7 linked regions of the Homo sapiens genome follow. The protein of the gene in region 1 purifies or fractionates together with the protein of each later gene. This does not show direct contact. Each region holds a gene or a part of one and is shown in the gene's direction. Other genes may lie near its edges. The genes, in order: TNFRSF8, TRAIP, GOLPH3L, CEP57, ATP6V1D, KIF3A and EXOC1.

Region 1 (3,500 bases):
TTTTTGTATTTTTAGTAGAGATGGGGTTTCACTCTGTTGGCCAGGCTGGTCTGGAACTCCTGGCCTCAAGGTGATCTGCCTGCCTTGGCCTCCCAAAGTACTGGGATTATAGGCATGAGCCACCATGCCCAGCCTGGGCAGTCTTTTGTAACAAACTGAAGCTTTTGAAATGGTAGCTTTTAGTAAGTTTTATTTGAAAAGTATGTATTTTGGGAAATACCATCAAAGGCTTCTTCAGAATTCCTAAGAAGTCCTAACTGGAACTTCTGAGTCCACACTGAGTACAGTGCCTGGAATCCCAGGGGTGGGGTTCAGAGGGTGTTTGATGGGGAGGAGAAGGAAGTACCAGGCTCCCAGGCAGCTGGCTCAGGTGTGGGCTGCCCTCCCCTGGCATGGCCTGCAGGCCTTGCTGGTGAGTGGATCGGGGGCCACCTCCGCCATGGTGGAAAGGGAAGGCCTTGGAGGTTCTCTTGGGCACCCAAGACACAGGCAACCCCCTTGTCCTCCTAATGCCAGCCCAGGGTAGCGTTCCCCCTTCCCATCCAGTTCCCAAGAGGGGTCACACTGGGGTCTGTACATCGTCCCTCTTCCCCTGGGAACCAGGCAAGGGAAGAACCCCTTTCCCCCCAACTTCCTCACCTGCCCTCCCCACATAGCCAAGATGAATTCCCTGGACTCTGGAGCTCTGGGGAGGGGGCAGGAAATCCATGCAGCCCTTGGAAGCCACCCCCACAGCCTGGGGAGTAGGCAGCCTGTGATGGGGGCAGAGCCAGAGCGGGGCAGACCCCTCATGGCCGGCTCTGAAGTTTCCAGACCCCTCTTTCACTTCCGAGCTCAGTGGGAGCTGCTTCCTCACCCAGAGCAGCCAATTCCACCGCTTTGAATCCAGTTAATTCCAGATTTCCTGGGGACTCCTGCCCATTTCCCTGAGGAATGTGAGGGGACCAGCCTGTCCCCAGCTGTGGCTCCTTCTCCCTAATCCAGCACCCCCACCCTCACTTCCCTCCCACCTGACCCCACCCGCCTCTCATCTTCTCTGCCCATCCCCCTCTGGGCCTTCTCTCCCCTCCTGGGGTCTCCTCTCTCACCACCCCCGGCCCCCATCTTTTGCCCAGCCCTCTATAGGGCTCCTAGGGCTGGGAGCCCACAAGCCTGATGGAGGTGTGGGGAGTGCTGAGGCCCTGCTCTGTTTTGGGGTCTGTGGGGGCGCCCAGCCCATAGCCTGTCCCGCACTCTGGGCCTTCTCCTCTTGCTGCCGTTTGGCGCACTTCTCTCTTTCCTGGGGGTGTTCAAAACCAGAATAGAAGAACCAGCGTCATGCAATAGGGTTGAGGGTGTGGGGGACTCGAGAACCTTTTTGGGGTTCCTGAATCCGAGGGGTATAACTGCATTACCCAGAAAGGCAGGGGTCCCTGCACCCCCACCCCACCCCAGCTCTCAAGTTCCCTCTTGAGCTTCCCCATTCTGGCCTCCAGAGTCCAGCGCAGAACAGCTGGGAGCCAGCCCACCCTGAGCCAGACACCATCAGCTGGGCGGAGGCCAGGCTTCCCCACTCCCCAGCTCCTCGGGCCACTGAACCTGAGCCCCCATGTCCCCTCTATCAGAAGGCCACACCAGAAGCCCCCACATCAGACTGTGGCGAGGACCGGCCCTCCGTCCAAGCTCCCACCATGTGCTCACAGCACAGCCATGCACGCTGCAGGCAGGAGACCGGCTGTGAGCAGTAAGCCCCGAAATTCACGGCCTGAGCCAGGCTGTCTCAATCATGGGCTGCCGAGACCTATTGAGGGGGCCGGGTTTTCTGCAGGATGTGACAGGCTGGCTGAGTTTGCCCGGACCGAGGGGACTCCCAGGACACGGGACTTGCAGTAGTAGAACCAGGAATGTTCCCGGGCAAGCTGGACAAGTTGGTCACCCCGGGTTTTGGCTGCAGGCACACAGATAGGAGCAGAAAGGGCCACCAGGCGGAGTGGGTGGTTTTTTTTTGGGGGATTTCTCCTAACTACGTGGCGACCTTGGGCAGGTCATTTAACCTCTCCAGGCTTCAGATTCTTACCTGTAAATGGGAATCTTGATGGGGTCCGCCTTGCAGGAGGGCTGGGGACCCAGGAGTGGGGGTGTGGAAACTGCTCAGCTCTGCTGTTTCTGCTCGTGCTCTGGTTACCCACGGCTTTGCCTGTTTTTGTCCACAGTTTGCTTTCTGTCCCACCCTGTCCTCTTCTTCCCTACCCATCCGCAGAGATGTGCTGAGAAAATCCTAAGTACAAGTGGGCTGGTTCTTAACTCCTCAAGGCCCAGCTCCTAGCTGTTCTATTTCCTCTGAGCCCCCAGGATGCCTGTAAGGTACATCAGAGAGGCTGTGCCATCAGCCTGAAGCCACCCGGCAGGTGTACCAGCACTGGGCCTCGGCCCTTCTCTGCCTCTTTGCTCCCATCCTGGCTGGTGCTCTGGCCTCCCTCGCTCACCCATCCTTTTGCCTTGCAGAGAAAATCTACATCATGAAGGCTGACACCGTGATCGTGGGGACCGTGAAGGCTGAGCTGCCGGAGGGCCGGGGCCTGGCGGGGCCAGCAGAGCCCGAGTTGGAGGAGGAGCTGGAGGCGGACCATACCCCCCACTACCCCGAGCAGGAGACAGAACCGCCTCTGGGCAGCTGCAGCGATGTCATGCTCTCAGTGGAAGAGGAAGGGAAAGAAGACCCCTTGCCCACAGCTGCCTCTGGAAAGTGAGGCCTGGGCTGGGCTGGGGCTAGGAGGGCAGCAGGGTGGCCTCTGGGAGGCCAGGATGGCACTGTTGGCACCGAGGTTGGGGGCAGAGGCCCATCTGGCCTGAACTGAGGCTCCAGCATCTAGTGGTGGACCGGCCGGTCACTGCAGGGGTCTGGTGGTCTCTGCTTGCATCCCCAACTTAGCTGTCCCCTGACCCAGAGCCTAGGGGATCCGGGGCTTGTACAGAAGAGACAGTCCAAGGGGACTGGATCCCAGCAGTGATGTTGGTTGAGGCAGCAAACAGATGGCAGGATGGGCACTGCCGAGAACAGCATTGGTCCCAGAGCCCTGGGCATCAGACCTTAACCACCAGGCCCACAGCCCAGCGAGGGAGAGGTCGTGAGGCCAGCTCCCGGGGCCCCTGTAACCCTACTCTCCTCTCTCCCTGGACCTCAGAGGTGACACCCATTGGGCCCTTCCGGCATGCCCCCAGTTACTGTAAATGTGGCCCCCAGTGGGCATGGAGCCAGTGCCTGTGGTTGTTTCTCCAGAGTCAAAAGGGAAGTCGAGGGATGGGGCGTCGTCAGCTGGCACTGTCTCTGCTGCAGCGGCCACACTGTACTCTGCACTGGTGTGAGGGCCCCTGCCTGGACTGTGGGACCCTCCTGGTGCTGCCCACCTTCCCTGTCCTGTAGCCCCCTCGGTGGGCCCAGGGCCTAGGGCCCAGGATCAAGTCACTCATCTCAGAATGTCCCCACCAATCCCCGCCACAGCAGGCGCCTCGGGTCCCAG
Region 2 (2,232 bases), on another chromosome or scaffold:
GTAATTGCACTATACATGGAGTTTTGTGTGCTTTTTAAATTAAATTAAATTTAAACTTTTTTTTTTTTTTTTCCTGAGACGGAGTCTTGCTCTGTCGCCCAGGCTGGAGTGCAGTGGCGCGATCTCGGCTCACCGCAAGCTCTGCCTCCCGAGTTCAAGCAATTCTCCTGCCTCAGCCTCCCGAGTAGCTGGGACTACAGACACAAGCCACCACACCCAGCTAATTTTTGTATTTTTAGTAGGATGGGGTTTCACCATGTTAGCCCGGGTGGTCTTGATCTCTTGACCGCTTGATCCACCCGCCTTGGCCTCCCAAAGTGCTGGGATTACAGGCGTGAGCCACTGTGCCTGGCCGAGAGTAGGGCTCTCTTGAGGGGTGGCCTTGAGTCAGGAGTGGGCTCCAGGTCCCTGGAGCTGAGTTATCTCTGATGCTTCAGGAGCTGTTGTCCTGGGTTACCACTGTGGCCCCAAGTAACCAGGTCATCTCTGCCTTCAGCCCAGCCCCTGTGGAGGTGAATCTGAAGCTCCGCCGGCCATCCTTCCGTGATGATATTGATCTCAATGCTACCTTTGATGTGGATACTCCCCCAGCCCGGCCCTCCAGCTCCCAGCATGGTTACTACGAAAAACTTTGCCTAGAGAAGTCACAGTGAGTGATAGTCGCTGGCACTGTCCATGGGCTGGTAGGGGGATAGCTAAGACAGCTCTGCAGGCCCTGTGCTGTTAGCTCTGAGTGGCTGATGGGGCAGTGAGGGTTGCCTAGGCTTGGCCATGGCTTTGGTTCCAGCTACCTCTTGTTCCCTCACCTGAGCACTCAATCTGTGCAAACCCCTTCTCTTTTCTCATTATTCCTCACCATCACCTTTCAAGGCAAACGTATTGGAATGCAAGTTAGAGAGAATGCAGTGATGCCAGAAGGGGTGGGTCTGGGCTGGAGAGGGTGCTCCCAATACCTTGAAGGCCTGCCCACCAGAGTCCTGAGCGAGGGACTCTGAACTTCCTCTTCTATGTTTGCCTCTGAGGCTCATGCCTGAGGGAGGATCATCTCAAACCACAGAGCCCAAGGCCTTACCACCCAAGGGGGTGACCCACAGGGGCAAGCATGAGAAGCTGTCTGGAATTCCAGTGGGGCAGGTGGAACCTGCTCTGGGGTACGGTGGGACCAGAAAAAGGGAGGCTGTCTCCTTGGCCAGCTTTGCCAAGTGTAATTCACTGTGGAGACAAGGACTATACTCATTCATACAGGTACTGTTCAGGTGAGGCTGGTCAAGGGCTGGGCAGGTTTCCTCTTTTTCAAAGACTTTGTACAGAGAGAAAGAAGAGAAAGAGAAAGAAACTGAGATGCTAGACAGTGGAGGTGGAAGGGAGCAAGAGGGCAAGCCAGCTGGGCTGTCCTACCTCCCAAACCTCAGGGGGCATGGGCACCCCTGTTGTAGAGGGCGAGGCCTGGTAGCAATGAGAAACAAACCTAGGACCCGTGGGCTGTAGTCCTCAGGGATCCTGTCAGTGTCTGCTGTGTACTCTGGCTTCCTCCCATTGCCCTTCTTCCGCTGTAAAGGTTGAAGGTGGACACCTGGGGTCTTCAGGCTGCCAGGCCTTTCAGAGACATTTCCACCACCTTCATGGCCTGTGGAGGTAGTGAAGGAGGTAGTGAAGTTCTGAGTCCCTAACTCAGCTCGTCCTTCCTGGAGCCTTGGTTGTCATGTAGCCTTACCACAGGCCGTTAGGGCAGGAGCAGAGGAGTCAGTCATCAGGCCCTGATCCCACTCTTGTCCTTATGGCTTGAGAAGCCACAGGGCCAGCCTTAGATCACCATCTTCTCACCCACCAGGGAAAATGCCAGGAGAGGGTATCCAGCTGCTGGGTTCCCCAGGAATTGGATGGAAATACAGTTTCTGGCTCTGGGGCTGGGATTGGGAGACCAGGGCCTGGGGCCATGCGCTATTCTGCCCCAGGCCCTTCTTAGACACACTCTCTAGGGAGATGGCTTGGCCCTGTGTTCTGAGAGGATTTTGTGGGCTACTTTACTGAAAGGCTAACTTACTGAGGCTCTCGTGGAGGTAGTGTCCCCTCTCTGGGAAGACAGGACTAGGCCTGAGCTCATTAAATTTCTTTTGCTCGTATCAGGGCATGACTGGCTTTCCTCCCGTGGGTGGTGAGTTGATTGGGCTCTTCAGCCCCATATAGAGCCTGGGACATGGTGAGGTGCCCGAGGACTTGAGGAGCGTTGGA
Region 3 (3,500 bases), about 140 Mb from region 1:
AACATATACCAAACAGAATAAATAAATTCATGCACAGTCATGTTATAGTAAAACTGCAAAACACCAAAAGAGAAGATCTTAAAGGACCAAAGAAAAGATACACCACCTACAAAAAAACCACAATCAATAAGAAAGATAGATTTCTCACTGCTATATTAGAAGCTGGAAGAAGAGGGCATACTATCTTCAATGTGATAACCTGGAATGATCAACCTGGAATTTTATGTCCAGAGAAACTATCTTTCAAGGATGATGGTGAAATACAAAGACATTTCAGATAAGCAAAATAGAAACTGCCTCCAACAGACTTTCACTTAAGGAAATTCTACTTTAGGAAGAAGAAAAATGGTGCCAGAAAGGAAGTCTGAGATACAGGAAGGAACGGTGAGCAAAGAAATTCGTAAGCACCTGTGTAAATCTAAACAAGTGCTACCTGTATAAAATAATAATGATGATGATGATATCTAATTTATGAGGCTAAAAAAAAATACTGGACAACTAAAAGAGTGGTTAAAATATTAATATTTAAAATTTAGGTTTTATGTTAATTTTAAATTAATGTATCATGCATGTTAAAATTTCAAGGATAACTTCTAAAAGTACATAACTTCCAAGCCAATAAAGAGGAAAATTGAATTAAAAAATTTTTTAAATAGTTATTATAGCTAGGTGCAGTGTCTCATGCCTGTAGTCTGAGCTACTTGGGAGGCTGAGGCAGGACAATTGTTTGAGCCCTGGAGTTCAAGTCTACAGTGAGCTATGATGGCCCCACTGCATTTCAGCCTGGATAATGGAGCAAGACCCCGCCTGTCTCTTAAAAAAAAAAAGTAACCCCAAAATATGCACAACTATGATCTATCAGTAAAACACCACCAAAAAAACAACCACTTAAAAATTTCTCTATTTAGCTTCGTGACCTCTGTTATGCTGTATAACCTCTGTAAGCCTTAGTTTTCTCATCTTTAATGTGTGGGTAGTAGTAGTACTTCCTTTATAGGGTTGTTGTGAAGATATAATCAGATAATGCATGTAAAAAGCTTAGCACAAATCTAGTACATAATAAGTATTAGCACATATCTAGTATATAATAAGTATTCAATAGACATTAGTAATTAAACGTTACTGCTGTTAGACAATACCAGTGGCTCTCTTATACGTATATTCCCTATACAAAGGGAAGGGGAGCTAACATTTTAAGTGCCTGCTATATGCCAGGCACTATACTAAATGCTTTCTTATATATTGTATCTCATGTAACCCTCATAACAATCTTATGAAAATATATATTGGTGTCTGCATTTTATAGATGAGGACAATGTACTTCAGAAAGTTTAAGTAACATAACCAAGGCACTTAATGACAGTGGGTTTCTATTATACCTCCCATCAAAAGAACTTCAAATTGGCTGGGCACGGTGGCTCACTCCTGTATTCCCAGCACTTTGGGAGACTGAGGCTGGTGGATGACGAGGTCAGGAGTTTGAGACCAGCTTGACCAACATAGTGAAATCCCGTCTCTACTAAAAATACAAAAATTAGCTGGGTGTGGCAGTGCACACCTGTAATCCCAGCTACTCAGGAGGCTGAGGCAGGAGAATCGCTTGAACCTGGGAGGCGGAGGTTGCAGTGAGCCAAGATCACGTCACTGCACTCCAGCCTGGGCGACAGAGCAAGCCTCCATCTCAAAAAAAAGAAAAAAGAACTTCAAATTAATACATATCTAGGAGGATTAAAAGCTCAAATGCTTTTTACTTTTTTCTGACTTATTTTACCCCACTCTGAAATTTTGTGTCATGGAAACAGACTTCAAAAAAGCCAAAATTCTCCTCAAAAATTAAAATTTTGCATGTCAAACCAGGTGCAGTCACTCATGTCTGTAATCCCAACACTTTCGGAGGCCAAGGTGGGAGGATAGCTTGAGGCCAGGAGTTCGAGACCAGCGTAGGCAACATAGCAAGACCTTGTCTCTACAAAAAAATTTTTTTTAAAAACAGCCAGGCATGGTGGCACATACCTGTAGTCCCAGCTACTCAGGAGGCTGAGGTGGAAGGATTGCTTGAGCCCAGGAGGTCAAGGCTGCAGTGAGCCATGATCATGCCACTGCATTTCAGCCTGGGGGAAAAAGCGAGACCCTGTCTCAAAAAAAAAAATTGCACATCATTTATTGACTAACAGCAAACCATGGAAATTCACTAAAGATCTTGAAGTCAGACAGAAAATCATATTTGGGGGTGTTTAAGAGGATTAAAGAAACATCCTCTTACTCTATACTTTGAGTTCATGTAGTATGATGTGAAACGAATCACAACAAAGCGGCCTGTTCTTAGGGTGCCTGCTGGAAGTCAGTATTCCTCTCAAAACATTCTTTCTCTTCTCTTTTCTCCTTTCCTAGGGGTACACATCTTTCTGGAATGACTGCATATCATCAGGCCTGCGAGGGGGCATCCTGATAGAGCTGGCCATGCGGGGTCGAATCTATCTGGAACCCCCGACCATGCGTAAGAAGCGACTACTAGACAGAAAGGTACTGAATCCTCTGTGAACGTCCATGGCTTATGGAAAGGCAAATACCAACAGTACATTTGGGAAGAATAGAAAGATTTGAGTAGTAAGATAAAATAAATATCACTGACTCAGCAGTTCCATTGTCTAAACAGGTTAATTACCCTATTGCAAGAGGGAGAAATCAAAGTATCCATAGTCCAAAGAGTTATAGGAAGCTCCTGGTTTTGTCTTCCTTTTTTATGCAGAAAAATCATACTCAGGATGCTGTTGATTAAATTCCTCCTATATCTATAGCTATAACATTATGAAATAGCCGGGCACAGTGGCTCACGCTTGTAATCCCAGCACTTTGAGAGGCCGAGGCGGGCGGATCATGAGGTCAGGCGATTGAGACCATCCTGGCTAACACGGTGAAATCCCATCTCTACGAGAAATATTTAAAAAAAAAATTAGCGGGGCATTGTGGCGGGCGCCTGTAGTCACAGCTACTCGGGAGGCTGAAGCAGGAGAATGGCGTGAACCCGGAAGGTGGAGCTTGCAGTGAGCCAAGATCCCGCCACTGCACTCCAGCCTGGGGGACAGTGCAAGACTCCGTCTCTAAAAAAAAAAAATTACGAAATAGAGTATGATGTAGGGAGAGGGACTCATATGGGTCAGGTCAGTCATTGATTAACCCTGGTTATTCTCCAATAATATTCTGTTTCCTTCCATTTACTGCAAGTCCTTTCCAACCATACTCCTGTATCCATTTTCTTACTGAATTTTTCCACTCACAACTTCTTTATCATCCTAAGCACTCCACTTAAACTACATTCTTAGGTATCACCAGCTTCTTTTCAGTCTTTGATTTATTTTTCTCTTTTAACCTATATGTGTCATTTGACACTTTTTATCACTTTGAAACTTTCTTCATTATTGGCCTTTGTTATTATCTTATTCTCTTGCTTCTCTGACTATACACTGTTTCCTTACTTCTCCATTTCTTAACATCCAAGT
Region 4 (3,500 bases), on another chromosome or scaffold:
TTTTGTGTCTGGTAATGTAGTAGATGCCATTTTTGAAAAGAATATATTTAAGCAATGGTTTGGGGTTAGATACATTGCATTTAACTCGTTAGATAGAATTTATGGAGTAACTACAAATACTGGAGATAATGTGTTCCACGCTGAAGAAGGGACAAATTATAACAGAAGGTCAAGATAAAATGAGAGACTGGTATTTATTTAAAATATTTGACAAACGTTGATAGATTGGTTCAAGACATAGTTATACAGCTGTAATATGTTTTTCAGTTAGATACTACCATTGGTTTTTACAGGCTTTTTACATGACACATCTGAAATCTGAGTCATAGCTTTTATTTCTACAGCATTAACTTGAGGCTCTCATTTTTCCTAGTTGCAGACTGGTCTAGAAACAAATAGACTTATCTTTGAAGATAAGGCAACTCCGTGTGTTCCCAATGCAAGAAGAATTAAAAAAAAGAAGTCAAAACCACCAGAAAAGGTGTGAAGACAGAACCAAATCAGGCAAAATGCTGATTACTTGGTATAGTTTATGTCAAAACACCCATAAACTGTGTGGTGTACTACAACCTTGAGAGAGTAAATCTTTCATTCTCAATTTCTTCATTCAGAAGGTGGAGATAAGTAATACCTACTCCTAAATTTTTATCCTGATAGTGAGAAAATATATAAGCATTTTGGAACTACAGAACACCATACAAAATTAGCATTATTAGTACTGCATTATCTTGTGCTCTTACAATGTTTTGTGTATATGTATACTGATTTTCTACTTAGAATGTAACTGTTGTTTTGTCAAGTGCTTTTTTCCCCCCAGCCTTTCCTAGGCTAGGATATATGCTAACAAGTACTATTAGGAGCTGGCTTGTGATCATAATGCCAACTATAGATAAGGCAAGTAGTAGCCTAGTAGTTAACTGAAGTTTCAAGTTAGTCATGTATAGTCAGTTTTTATTATCATGTGAATAAAATAAAATTGTTTTCCTTTTCTTTTCATTCAGAAAAGTTCTAGGAACTATTTTGGTGCACAACCACATTATAGATTATGCTTGGGTGATATGCCATTTGTAGCTGGGAAGGTGAGTTGGTCAAACTCCGGATTCTTTTTATACAACATTGATCCCTGAATTAAGTCCCTGCATCTGCAAGTATGTCTACAAATGGAAGGAACATTTTTCTGTGCCTTTACCAGTGTGTGGATCACAGTGATGTGAAAATGAGATGTAGGGAGGTTTTTGGGGATTAGGGAAGCAAGGAAGAGATGGGGAGGATACCTTAAAGTAGATAAAGTATATGTGGAAAGGAAGTGATAAAACAGAGACCCTAAGTTGAAGAAGGTGTTGTTTCAGATAGGGGTCAAGGAAATAAGAAATAGTATGTTTGTAGCATTGGATTTTTAGTATCAATCCTGTTGAGTTACATTTAGATATAGGTAGATATTCGAATAAGCACGTAGCACATTCTGCTTGTCCTCACATCCAGATCATTTCTAGGACTAATTCTCCAAGAAGCAGTCATACGTACACTTGAATCTTCAGTTTCTTCAGCACTTGAATGTAAAGCTGTATTGTCATATATCAAGTACTGAGTGAAGTGCCTAAAACTGTGCTAGTTGACACTACTTTATAAGCTGTTTGTGTTGCTGGTGGTTTTATATTTAGATTCCAACTAGATTGTTATTCTGGCATCTTGGGAAGTAAATGTTCTTCTGAATTTTGTATTTGTTTATATTTATTTATTTTAAACCCCTAGTAAATTCGCAGTGAAATCATGGGGAATATAATAAATTAGTGGTGACAAGCATTTGAAAAAGGTACAGTTGACCCTTGAACAACATGAGTCCGAACTCTGTGTGGGTCTACTTACAGGCAGATTTTTTTTTTCAATAAGTATCTTGGAAAATTTTTTGGAGATTTTTGGCAATTTGAAAAAACTTGCAAACTATAGCTTAGAAATATCAGAAGTTAAGAAAAAGTTGGTATGTCATAGATGCATAAAATTGACTATGTCAATACTAGTGCATTTTATCATTTACTACCATAAAATATACACAAGTTTTTTTTAATTATAATTTATCAAAACAATTTGCACACAGACTACGTGACGCCATTCACAGTCCAGAGAAATGTAAACAGAGATAAAGATGCAGTATGAAATCATAACTGTATAAAATTAACTGTAGTACATACTGTACGACTGATAATTTTGTAGCCACCTTCTGTTGCCATTGTGATGAGCTCAAGGGTTGGGAGTATTCACTTAAAATGCCACGTGACGCTAATCATCTTCAAATGAGCAGTTCATCTCTCCAGTCAATTGTGTATCACAGTAAAAAGTGTTCTCTAGCAGTTCCATATTTTCCATCATGTTTAGCACAATACAGTAAATAATTTGAATAATATCATGGGACCCATATCAAGTGCTACTAATGATGGTGGAAGTGCTCCCAAGAAGCAGACAAAAGTCATGACATGACAAGAAAAAGTTGCATTGCTTGATATGTACCATAGATTGAGGTCTGCAGCTGCGGTTGTCCACCATTTCAAAATAAATGAATCCAGCTGAAGGCCTATTGTAAAAAAAAAAAAAAAAAAAAAAATGATCCCGGCATGTTGGCGTGCACCTGTGGTCCCAGCTACTCAGGAGGCTGACAGAAGAGGATCACTGTAGCCCAGGAGTTCGAGACTGTAGTAAGCGATGATGGCACCACTGTACTCCAGCATAGGCAACAGAGTAAGATCCTCTTTAAAAAATTTTTTTTAAAAAAAAAAGGAAATTGTGAATCTGTCACTGCAGCTACTCTAGCAGGTGCCAAAACCTTGTGCTTTTTGCAAAATAGCTTTTTATCTCATTGAAAATGCAGCTTTTATGTGGATGCAGGATTGCTATAAGAAAGGCATACTTGTAGACTCTAATATGATTTGAGAAAAAGGAAAGTCATTATATGACAACTTAAAAGGAAGGTGAGGTATCTAAAGCTGGAGAATTTAATTCCAGCAAAGGATGGCTTGATAATTTTAGAGGTTTGGCTTTAAAAATGTCAAGATAGGAGAAGCAGCTTCTGCTGACCAAGAGGCAGCAGATGAATCCCAAGATACCATTAAGAAAATCATTGAGGAGAAAGGGTATCTTCCTGAACAGGCTTTTAATGCAGACAGAAGTACCCTATTCTGGAAAAACATGATGCCACGAAGGATATTTATAAGTAAGGAGGACAAGTCAGCACCAGGATTTAAGGAAAGAGGAGACGGGCTAAATCTACTATTTTGTGAAAACACAATCCGATTTACAATCAGGACTGCCCTTATCTATAAAGCTGCTAATCCCTGAGCCTTCAAGGGGAAATATACCCAACTGCCAGTCTTTGGGTTTACAACAAGAATGACCCTTTGAGAACCCTTTTTCTAAACTGGATTTAGAAAAAACATTGATCCATCAATCCTTTGTCCCTGAAGTCAGGAAGTAATTTGCCAGTAAGAGACTGCCTTTTAAAGTCTTTT
Region 5 (3,500 bases), on another chromosome or scaffold:
CTTTCTTTTGGCACTTGTATTTCCTTGCTTCATGTGATATTTAATTAAATCATATAGAATATTAAGTACATTTCATACGAAGAAGTAGAGCATTCTAGAGAGAGTCACCTGTTCACAGAGTGTCATCGTACTCTGGGCATCAGGCAGTATGATTTTCAAAGGGAATAAGGGGCATCAAGCTAGTGAAGTGAAGGTTGGTTAAAAGCTTCCTTTGTAGTTATATTTAGAATAGTATTCTTGTGGGAAACTGTATTTAGTAGCATGCTCCTATAGTGTTTGGGGAGTGAGATAGGCACTTCATGTTTACATTCAATGAAGATTAGTGAATTCATCTTTCCATATTTGTTATTATTCTGAATTATCTCCTTTTGGGGAATTTTATAGGGAAGATATTTTACTCTAATTAAAAATGTTGTCTGACTGGTCCTTTCAGGTTATGAACTGACTGGTTTAGCCAGAGGTGGGGAACAGTTGGCTAAATTAAAGAGGAATTATGCCAAAGCAGTGGAACTACTGGTGGAACTAGCTTCTCTGCAGGTAAGTAGCAAAAGACCTGGAGAACTCCTGTAGTTTGATTTGTAACAGTCAAGTGGAGGAGAGTCAGGTCTTGAGTCAGCATATACTGTGCTTTGTACTTTTAACTGTTCCCATGATCCTATGTAAAGCAAACATAATATTTTGATTTCTGAAGTGATGGCTTTTGTACCATTGTCCCTACTTTTTAAAATTTATGTATTTTTTATTTTTTTGAGATGGAGTTTTACTCTTGTTGCCCAGGCTGGAGTGCAATGGCGCGACCTCGGCTCACTGCAACCTCTGCCTCCTGGGTTCAAGTGATTCTTCTGCCTCAGCCTCCCAAGTAGCTGATTACAGACATGTGCCACCATGCCTGGCTAACTTTTGTATTTTTTGTAGAGACAGGGTTTTGCCATGTTTGTCAGGCTGGTCTCGAACTCCTGACTTCAGGTGATCCACCCGCCTCGGCCTCCCAAAGTGCTAGGATTACAGGCATGAGCCACTGCACCTGGCCCCTACTTTTAATTTAAAAATTTATTTATTTTTCGAAATGGGGTCTCACTGTGTCACCCAGGCTGGAGTGCAGTGGCATAATCCCAGCTCACTGCAACCTTAACCTCCTGGGCTTAAGTGATCCGCCCACCTCAGCCTCCTGAGTAGCTGGGACTATAGGCATGCCCCATCACACCTAGCTAATTTTTGTATTTTTTGTAGAGGTGGGGTTTCACCATGTCGTCCAGGCTGGTCTCGAACTCCTGGGCTCAAGTAATCAGCCCGCCTCATCCTTCCAAAGTGCTGGGATTATAGGTATGAGCCACCACACCCGGCCCCTGCTTCTTCTTGTTAACAAAATGTATGTGCTATGGTACACTCTTGTTTTTTTTGTTTGTTTGTTTGTTTTTTTCTTTGAGACAGAATCTTGCTCTGTTGCCCAGGCTGGAGTGCAGTGTTGCGATCTTGGCTAACTGCAGCCTGGATCTCCTGGGCTCAAGCAGTCTCCCGCCTCAGCCTCCCAAGTAGCTTGGACTACAAGTTTGTGCCACCTCGCCTGGATAATATTTTTGAATTTTTTAGTTGAGATGAGGTCTTGCTACGTTGCCCAGGCTGGTCTCAAACTCCTGGCCTCAAGAAATCCTGCCATCTCAGCCTCCCAAAGTGCTGGAATTATAAGTGTGAGCCACCTCACCCAGCCCAGTTTCACTCTTTGCTAAGTAAGAATAGCAAGTTGATACTAGATTTAAATGTAAATGTAAATAAACATCGTTTGTGCATGGAAGACCATTTTTTCCCCTATGTGGCCAGTTAGTATATATCTAGGTTATTAATGCTTGATTCTTTCTTGTCATTTTTATGTTGTTATTTAGGTGAGACTATAGTAAACAAATTATAATAGTGTCAACTCAAGTAAAGCCTGTTGAAGCAGAAATGATTTGATAAAGGTTTATTGAAAGCCAAATGTGAGGATTGACCCGGGAAGACACCAACAAAGTTGGGTGTGTTCTAGAGTCTGCTACAAGTTGGAAGGCTTTTATGGGAAAGTTTAGGAGAAGGGAGGACTCCTCATACCCAAGTTGTCCTTTTCATTGGCGAGTACAATACAGAGGTCACAATCATTGGCTACAGATTACAAATACAAGCTAAAATGTTCTACATGCAAGTAAATCATGAAGTAAAACTTCATGAATCAGAAACAAATCAGTGTCATTTTCAGCGTCAGTAGGTTGCATATTAATCAGTATGTCAGCAGTCTGAGAAACTTAAGATTTCCTTACTCAGGGACAGGATGTAAACCATGAATCATAAGATCCCTCAATCTGCCCAGGCAGGTTAATTTGGAAACCTACCAAATGTGACATGTAGGTTATCAATAGCATGGAAATAGTGTTAGCCCTATGGAAATCTCACAAGAATTTTGTTTTTGTTTTGTTATGAAGAGACAGGGTCTTACTCTGTCACCCAAGCTGGAGTACAGTGGCACAGTAATAGCTCACTGCAGCCTCAAACGATCCTCCCATCACAGATTACCAAGCAGCTGGGACTACAGGTGCATGCTACTACACCCAGCTAATTTTTAAAATTTATTTCTTGTAGAGGCAAGGTCTCATTGTGTTGCCCAGGCTGGTCTTGAACTCCCAACTTCAAGTGATTCTCCCACCTCAGCCTCCCAAAGTATTGGGGTTATAGGCGTGAGCCATGCGCCCAGCCTAAGAATTTTGTTTTTTAAGCATGCCAAAAAGAAGTTGTCTTGGTTCTCAAATGTTTTCTACAAGTGCAGTCTTAGTGGAGTCAAGTGATCAGGGAATGATTAGGAAGACTTTGTGCTTACATTATTAATTTGTTCTTATTTTAGACTTCTTTTGTTACTTTGGATGAAGCTATTAAGATAACCAACAGGCGTGTAAATGCCATTGAACATGGTGAGTATTAGGTACTGTGAGGTGCTTTGTCACTTGTCCATACCCTCCACTTGTCGTGAAACTGCTAGAATTCAGGGACTGTACTGAAGACTGAAAGATGAATAAGATGCTTCCCTTGCCCACAGTGCAAAGAGAGAAGTGTGTCCATAGTAAAAAAAAAAAGTGTTATGAAGTGTTCTGATAGAAGTACTTGTATGATCTGGGGGAGTTACACACATAGGAAAGTGGTGACTTAAAAATTATGGAATGTTTTCTTCATTTCCAGTTATTCATGCAGTTATTTAAGGGTAGGAATATTTCTCAAGATCCTTAGTGTTTTCTGTAGTTCTTTCTAATGGTTGAGTGATGCAACTTTTTGAGTACATTAAATATTTAACTTTAAATCAGTATAAGCCATTCTCCTTGATTTCTAAAAAATTTCCCATTTGATGCACTTATTTTCCATCTCTTTTATTTCACTATTTAAAAAATATGACTGCTTAGTGTTGATGGTACTTTTTGCTCAATAAACTTAGTTTTTATTAAAGAAACACTCAATTTTAGGTAAGAAAGCAAAATTTGAAGTAA
Region 6 (3,500 bases), on another chromosome or scaffold:
GGCAGCTTTAAGAAAAACAGCAACAGTTTTTATGTCCAAGGAAATTTATAGTGTGTCAGGGCTTCTTACTCACCAACCTTTATTAAGTACATTTTAGATACTGGGATTAGAAGATGATGTCATTAGACATTTCTTTGGTTTTAGCTTCTGTGGGTTTGATCAAGGAGTTTATTCAGTATTTTAAATCTTCCCCCAAATCTGGCTTTAACTCTTTGCCTTAAGAGTGCTTTGTGTTTGTTTCTTTTACTTAGCCCTTTGAGGTGGACCTTTCTCACGTGTATCTTGCCTATACTGAGGAGAGTCTGCGTCAGTCTTTGATGAAACTAGAAAGACCACGAACTTCAAAGGGGAAAGCAAGGCCAAAGACAGGGAGAAGGTAAGGACTGTCCTTGAATCTGGTAAAACGAAGGCATTGAGGTATTCTAATTAGATACATGTACAGGAAGTTAAAATTTATTTAGTTAAAACATGATACATATTTTGGCTGATTTATTAAAAATCAAATTCCTGGCTGGGCACAGTGGCTCACGCCTGTAATCCCAGCATTTTGGGAGGCCGAGGCAGGTGGATCATTTGAGGTCAGGAGTTTGAGACCAGCCTGGCTAACATAGTGAAACGCTGTCTCTACTAAAAATACAAAAGTTAACCAGGCATGGTGGCGCATGCCTGTAATCCCAGCTACTGGGGAGGCTGAGGCATGAGAATCGCTTGAACCCAGGAGCCGGAGGTTGCAGTTAGCCGAGATCATGAGATCATGCCACTGAACTTCAGCCTGGGTGACAGAGCAAGACTTGGTCTCAAAAAAAAAAAAAAAAAATCAAATTCCTTATGTATTAGAATTTGAGTAAATAAAATCTGGCCAAAGAATTAAGGTCTTCCAACTTCTTAGGCTTCTGAGTAATAGAATTTATTTTTAATTCACTCTGTTATTTCCAAATGTATAATGGGTTTAATTCCTTAATTCTTAGACTAATTCTTCTTATGAAATGCTAATTAATTTGCCTGTTTGGTCTCCCAAGGTATTGTATTCAGCTGGTTAGTTTTTCTGTCAGGTGCCCCAAGAACCTTGATTTCCTCAGTCACCAGCTAAGGAGAACTTCCTTGGACATTTCCCCCTCTCCTTTGGGCACTGGTTTTGACTGTTGGGTAGTCTGCGTGTATCATCACATAAGCTCAGGGAAATCGGGATATGGGAGTCCTGGGCTGGAGCTTATTTTTTTTTCCTTTCCCTTTCCTACATCAAGGACTGTTCAGTTTATTTAAGCTGATTTTAAGACTCTGGGGCTCCTAAAATGTAGGAAATAATAAGCTGCTTTTTTCCCTACTTTGAGTGCATGGACTTTCAAGTTACATGTGGGATGAAGTTGTACGGTTTTGATATCTTTGTGTTACATAATCTCATAGACATGACTTAACACTTATAAATTTGGGATGGTTGAACTCAGGGTTGGGCAAACAGTTGAATATTAAAAATGTACAAATTTTTACATTCTTTAGCATTTAGGTGAGGGGTTAAAAACTTTCCTATACCAACACATGCCAAGCATATTGTAGTGAAGCAAATCAGTTCTAAGAAACATGAGTCCCTTTAGATGTATCTTTTTTTCCATTTTTAATAAAATGACAGTGCAAGTGTGATGATAAATGGTAAGACATTTGTCCCCAGCGTAGGAGAAAAATTGGCAGTGGTGAGCAGTCCTGTCTAAAGTGAGTGGCTGCTATTCTCTTCCTAGTTATCTATGGAAATAGAGGGCTCATTGTTTCTGGATCTTCTGTTTTCTTTTCTTTTCTTTTTTTTGAGATGGAGTCTCACTCTGTTGCCCAGGCTGGAGTGCCCTGAGTAGCTGGGATTACTGGCACCTGCCACCATGCCCAGTTAATTTTAGTATTTTTACTAGAGATGGGGTTTTGCCCTGTTGGCCAGGCTGGTCTCGAACCCCTGACTTCAGGTGATCTGCCCACCTCAGCCTCCCAGAGTGTTATGATTACAGGCATGAGCCACCGTGCCTGGCCTGGATCTTCTCTTTTCTAAGGAAAAGCCAGAAATTCGAATTATTTACTTGAGATCTGTCAATTTTACTTTTTTTTTTTTTAACTATATGGACCCTAAAGCAAATGAATAAATAATATGATATTTGAATACGTTTTCCAGAACATCCATTTTAAGATACGTCATTTTTTTAGTTTAACATTAAAAAAATCGTGTGGCCCAACATTATATGAGCCAAACTCACCATCTCTGTATACTGGAATTGGCCTGCTATAACCATGGAAACCCTAAGAAAATGGTAGCCATAAACATGGACAAATACATGCATTAAATGGTTTATTGATGCTATGTTACATTATATGATATGTTCAATGTGATGTTCCTTGTTAGAAACACATAGTTAGATGGGCTAGGCAAAATTGCAATAAATATAATACATTAATGTAGCATTTCCATAAGTCCCTACATATGCATCAGGTATTGCCTGAGATGATTTGTTTCTGATTTCCTCTGAATCCACTTGCACCTTTTGAGTACCTCAGAAGAGATAATCAGGAAGTTCAAATCTGGCAAGCATGCAGCTCACTTGGCCTGGCCACATGACCTAGTCTAGTCTTGGAAATTATCACCTGTCCTATCCTTCACTATCTGGCATAATGGGGTGGGCTGCCATCCTCTTGCATTTACTTTAAGTTAGCTTCCCGTAGCCTGAAAAGGCGAGCATTAATTGAACACTTACCATGGTCAAACGTGTCAAATTTTGGCTTGTTTCCAGACTATACAGGCCACCCCATAGTTTCTATATAATGTTAAATGTTTGCATTTCAGTCTTTTAGGAAAGCATTCATGATTGCTTTTTTTCTTCTCCAAACAGAAAGCGTTCTGCAAAGCCTGAAACTGTAATTGACTCTTTACTGCAGTAAATGTTACAGACTTAAAGTCACAATAAAAATTAGTGATATTCTCATGCCTGGACAAAATCTTTAATTAAAACAGTGAAGACTTCTCTATAATTTCAATTAATGGAAGTTGTAGATCAATGAATAAGACTGGAAATAATAATTTGCTTAAGAACTTTTAGTCTACATATATTAATATAACATTAAAATTGTACAACTGGTGATTGTTCAAATTGTTGTACTACTACTCTTCAATTGTACTGTGCAGGGAAGTTGGGGGAACAGTTCATACTATAGAGAGTTACAGTTTAGATGTATGTGTAAATCGATTAGCTATTTATCCAACTACTGTATATTTAGGTAACTAGAATTTCAAAATAGAAAAAAAAAAACTGTGTCCTGTTTTGCACATAGAAAGAAGCAGATCAGATTGTCCTATGTTGCGCTGTTATATATGAATGTTTGGACTGTACATCTAAAGAATGATTCCGTCCTAACACCCACCCAGCCTGTTTGAACACATTCTAATTGTCTAACATTTGTTGCATTTTAAGTATGAGATGACTGATCTTATGAATGTTTTGTAGAAAATGTTATAATTTAACAGTCTT
Region 7 (3,469 bases), on another chromosome or scaffold:
CCTCTCTTCTATATATGGGCATATTGTATGTGTGCTTTCTTTAATATAAAAGTGTTGTCATACCTGACACACTATTTTTGAAGCTGCTGGACTCTATATAATCTTAGTATCTTTCTTAGTTAGTTAATATAGATAAACATAATCATTTTTAATGATTGCATAGTCATCCATATGTCATTATCCATTTACCAAATCTTCTATTAATAAACATTTAGGATTTTTTTAGTTTATCTATCTTTGTATACTTGTCAAATAATTTCTTTAGGGTAAATTACTAGAAATGGAATTACTGGGTCAAAGGATTTATGTATCTCAAGTCTTTTCCCAAATTGTGATACAGAAAGCTTATGTCAGTTTAGTGCTATGAGCAGTTGCATTACAGCTGTACCAATGCTGGGTTTTACTAGGTATTACCAATCTTTTTATTCTTTGTCAACCTGATAGGCTATAAATTATCTCACTATTTTATTTTGCATTTCATTGATTTTGTATATGGTGTCTTTACTTTACATGAATTTTCAAATTTTATCTCCAATTTATTTATCTTTCCCCTTAACAGTCTTCTAAATTTTGGGCCATTCTTAGCAAGGTCACACTATTGCAAAATTATTATTTTTCTATTAGTTATATTTTCTTTAGTACTTATGATTGTATTATTTGTTTGCTTTTTACATTTTAAATAATTTAGCAATTTAGAATTTGACTGCAAGATGTAAAGTAGGAACTTAAATTTCATATATTAAAATGGTCCAGCCGGTTGTCCTAACACATTTTGAATAATTCATCATTTCTCCATTGATCTGAAAAGCTACTTTTATTATATACTGAATTTCCATATACACATGGGACTGTTTTAGGATGACTTTTTATTATGATTAGGTAGATCTGAAGACTCCCATTACAATATATTGTATTAAGTCCAGAAATGTGCTTAATTCTTAAACTTACAAATGAAAAAAAATTAATAGTATAAATGTTTATAGCTAAATATGGTCATACTCAGAGATGTTATTTTATTTTTTCTGTTTTGGTTTTAGTGGAGAAAGTAGCAAATGAAAGCCAGAAGACCCCCAGGGATGTGGTTATGATGGAAAACTTTCACCATATTTTTGCAACTCTTTCTCGATTGAAAATCTCATGTCTAGAAGCAGAAAAAAAAGAAGCCAAACAAAAATACACAGATCACCTTCAGTCTTATGTCATTTACTCTTTAGGACAACCTCTTGAAAAACTAAATGTAAATATATTTTCATTCAGTATTTTTCCTACTTTTGAACCTATACACATAAGTTTGCATATGAATAACCTGCAGACATTTATCTTAAATTTTCTCATGTGTTGGTGCACAGGGGACTCAGTTATTGAAGCTGCCAGTGTGCCAGACACTGCTAGATGCTATATATTTTATTTCTTCTTTCTGTACATTATTTTTATACATTATTTATCTACTATATTTTAATGATAATTGTACTAGTATTCTATTATGCATTATTTCTTTTAATTCTTATAAACAATGATGTGTAAGCTAAGATAATATTATCCCCATTTCACAAATGAAGAAACTGAAAGTAAAAAAACTTGCCCGACATCATAATAGCTTATAAATTACAAAGCTGGGGGATGAACCTAGATTAGGCTTTGCCGTTACTCTTTCCCATTTCTTACTTTATAAATGACCAAGTTTACAATGTCTAGGTGGAAATTTCAAAAATATTATTAAGATAAAAGAAAAACCAAAAATTGCTTTCTACATTGCCTTTTACTTTTCTTTCCCTTCTTTTTTTTTCCTTACTTGAGTCATTTCCCAGAGTAAGTCTGTTAATTAAAGTTAAGAAATGATGATTTTAGGGAACTTTACAAGATAGTGAAAGCTTAAATGAACCTTTTAAACTAACTTTGTCTGCAATATAGTTATCTTTTATAAGCTCTTAACTTGAAGTTAGAGTAAAATAGCGCGGTGACTCACACCTGTAATCCCAGCACTTTGGGAGGCCAAGGCAGGCGGATCACGAGGTCAGAAGATCGAGACCATCCTAGCTAACAAGGTGAAACCCCGTCTTTACTAAAAATGTAAAAAAAAATTAACTGGGCGTGGTGGCACGCTCCTGTAGTCCTAGCTACTTGGGAGGCTGAGGCAGGAGAATCACTTGATCCTAGGAGGTGGTGGTTGCAATGAGTGGAGATCACACCACTGCGCTCCAGCCTGGGCGACAGAGCAAGACTCAGTCTCAAAACAAAACAAAAAAAAAGAATATGTATCTGCTGTCAACAATTCAAAGAAATACTTGAAAGACATTTAATCAAATGCAGAACTAATTCCTTATAAAACTTAAGAACAGACAAATATTCCTTTAACTGGATAAAAGATCTATCTCAGGCCTAAAGCTTACATGATACTTAACTGCAACGTTAGAGACATTCCCTCTGAAATCAATTTAAAGCAGAAATATTGTTAGATCCTTTATTATTTAGCATTGTTGTTGAAGCACTAGCCAGTTCAACAAGACCTGAAACATAAATAAGAGATATGGAAAACAGAGACGAGATTATCACCACCTGTATATGATATGTTGAAATTACTGGTGTTGGTCAAGTGACAAAATTTAAAGCAAATATACTGAAAAACAATGTATTTCCTGTCTACCAATTAAGAGCTTATGTAAAAACAAAATTTTTAAAGCACTAAGAATAACTTCTCAAAGAATGATAATTTAATGAATAATCACTAAGAAAATTTTAGAAAAAAGTAATGAGAGGGAATGGGGTTTGTCAGCATTAATTCTTTGTATCGTGCTCAAATACAGTTATGCCAGTCAATAAAAGTATATATATAAAAGAAGACCTGGGAATAATAGTTACAATAATATAACAGAGTCAGTATATTTAATATAAAAAATCTTACTAAAATCAATAAGAAAAGCACTAAGACCCCAATTTATAAATGGGGCAAGGGGCTGAATCACTACTAAACATATAAAAGCAGGTTAACCTTATTTATAGCCAAAGAATTATAAAATAAAATGACAAACTTTTTTTACTCTGGCAACTATTGTTATAAATTGTCATAATGCTTATGATGGTATAGTGAAGTAGCAACCTCATACACTGTTGACAGAAATATAAATTGGTTGAGCTTTCCTAGGAAGCAGTTTGTATATATACTGAAGAATCTTTCAAATACTTAAAGTTATGCTCTTCAACAGAGTAATTATAGTCCTGGAAATTTAATCAGTAAGATGGGTAAATACTTATATACAAAAAAAATTTATGACAAATATATTTATAGTAGATTTTCTAAAGTCTCACTAGATTTGCCAAGTCCAAAAAAAGAAGGGGGAGTGGGATGTTAAATATCTAGTACTAGAGGAATGAATAATAATTGTGGTTCAGTCATTGTGTGAAATATTATGCAGCCATTAAAATTTATATTTAGGAAAAAACAATATTAAATGTAAAGTGGGACATGAAA

The links.
Region 2: the proteins of TNFRSF8 (region 1) and TRAIP purify together in Homo sapiens (affinity purification with western blotting, with the first as the bait; one study listed by BioGRID). This does not show direct contact.
Region 3: the proteins of TNFRSF8 (region 1) and GOLPH3L purify together in Homo sapiens (affinity purification with mass spectrometry; 2 studies listed by BioGRID and IntAct, with this or other methods). This does not show direct contact.
Region 4: the proteins of TNFRSF8 (region 1) and CEP57 purify together in Homo sapiens (affinity purification with mass spectrometry; 2 studies listed by BioGRID and IntAct, with this or other methods). This does not show direct contact.
Region 5: the proteins of TNFRSF8 (region 1) and ATP6V1D purify together in Homo sapiens (affinity purification with mass spectrometry; 2 studies listed by BioGRID and IntAct, with this or other methods). This does not show direct contact.
Region 6: the proteins of TNFRSF8 (region 1) and KIF3A purify together in Homo sapiens (affinity purification with mass spectrometry; 2 studies listed by BioGRID and IntAct, with this or other methods). This does not show direct contact.
Region 7: the proteins of TNFRSF8 (region 1) and EXOC1 purify together in Homo sapiens (affinity purification with mass spectrometry; 2 studies listed by BioGRID and IntAct, with this or other methods). This does not show direct contact.

What each region holds. Positions count from the first base shown.
Region 1 is NC_000001.11:12,139,803-12,143,302, forward strand, and holds part of TNFRSF8 (tumor necrosis factor receptor superfamily member 8 isoform 1 precursor), read left to right. Parts: intron 1-2,484; coding exon 2,485-2,729; 3' UTR 2,730-3,500. UniProt on the Homo sapiens protein: Receptor for TNFSF8/CD30L. May play a role in the regulation of cellular growth and transformation of activated lymphoblasts. Regulates gene expression through activation of NF-kappa-B.
Region 2 is NC_000003.12:49,830,333-49,832,564, reverse strand, and holds part of TRAIP (E3 ubiquitin-protein ligase TRAIP), read left to right. Parts: intron 1-496; coding exon 497-649; intron 650-2,232. UniProt on the Homo sapiens protein: E3 ubiquitin ligase required to protect genome stability in response to replication stress.
Region 3 is NC_000001.11:150,662,655-150,666,154, reverse strand, and holds part of GOLPH3L (Golgi phosphoprotein 3-like), read left to right. Parts: intron 1-2,391; coding exon 2,392-2,523; intron 2,524-3,500. UniProt on the Homo sapiens protein: Phosphatidylinositol-4-phosphate-binding protein that may antagonize the action of GOLPH3 which is required for the process of vesicle budding at the Golgi and anterograde transport to the plasma membrane.
Region 4 is NC_000011.10:95,821,498-95,824,997, forward strand, and holds part of CEP57 (centrosomal protein of 57 kDa), read left to right. Parts: intron 1-373; coding exon 374-481; intron 482-487; exon of another isoform or gene 488-837; coding exon of another isoform or gene 838-894; intron 895-1,001; coding exon 1,002-1,079; intron 1,080-3,500. UniProt on the Homo sapiens protein: Centrosomal protein which may be required for microtubule attachment to centrosomes. May act by forming ring-like structures around microtubules. Mediates nuclear translocation and mitogenic activity of the internalized growth factor FGF2, but that of FGF1.
Region 5 is NC_000014.9:67,342,805-67,346,304, reverse strand, and holds part of ATP6V1D (V-type proton ATPase subunit D), read left to right. Parts: intron 1-433; coding exon 434-537; intron 538-2,866; coding exon 2,867-2,933; intron 2,934-3,500. UniProt on the Homo sapiens protein: Subunit of the V1 complex of vacuolar(H+)-ATPase (V-ATPase), a multisubunit enzyme composed of a peripheral complex (V1) that hydrolyzes ATP and a membrane integral complex (V0) that translocates protons.
Region 6 is NC_000005.10:132,696,047-132,699,546, reverse strand, and holds part of KIF3A (kinesin-like protein KIF3A), read left to right. Parts: intron 1-251; coding exon 252-376; intron 377-2,864; coding exon 2,865-2,913; 3' UTR 2,914-3,500. UniProt on the Homo sapiens protein: Microtubule-based anterograde translocator for membranous organelles. Plus end-directed microtubule sliding activity in vitro. Plays a role in primary cilia formation. Plays a role in centriole cohesion and subdistal appendage organization and function.
Region 7 is NC_000004.12:55,898,648-55,902,116, forward strand, and holds part of EXOC1 (exocyst complex component 1), read left to right. Parts: intron 1-1,037; coding exon 1,038-1,237; intron 1,238-2,187; exon of another isoform or gene 2,188-2,507; intron 2,508-3,469.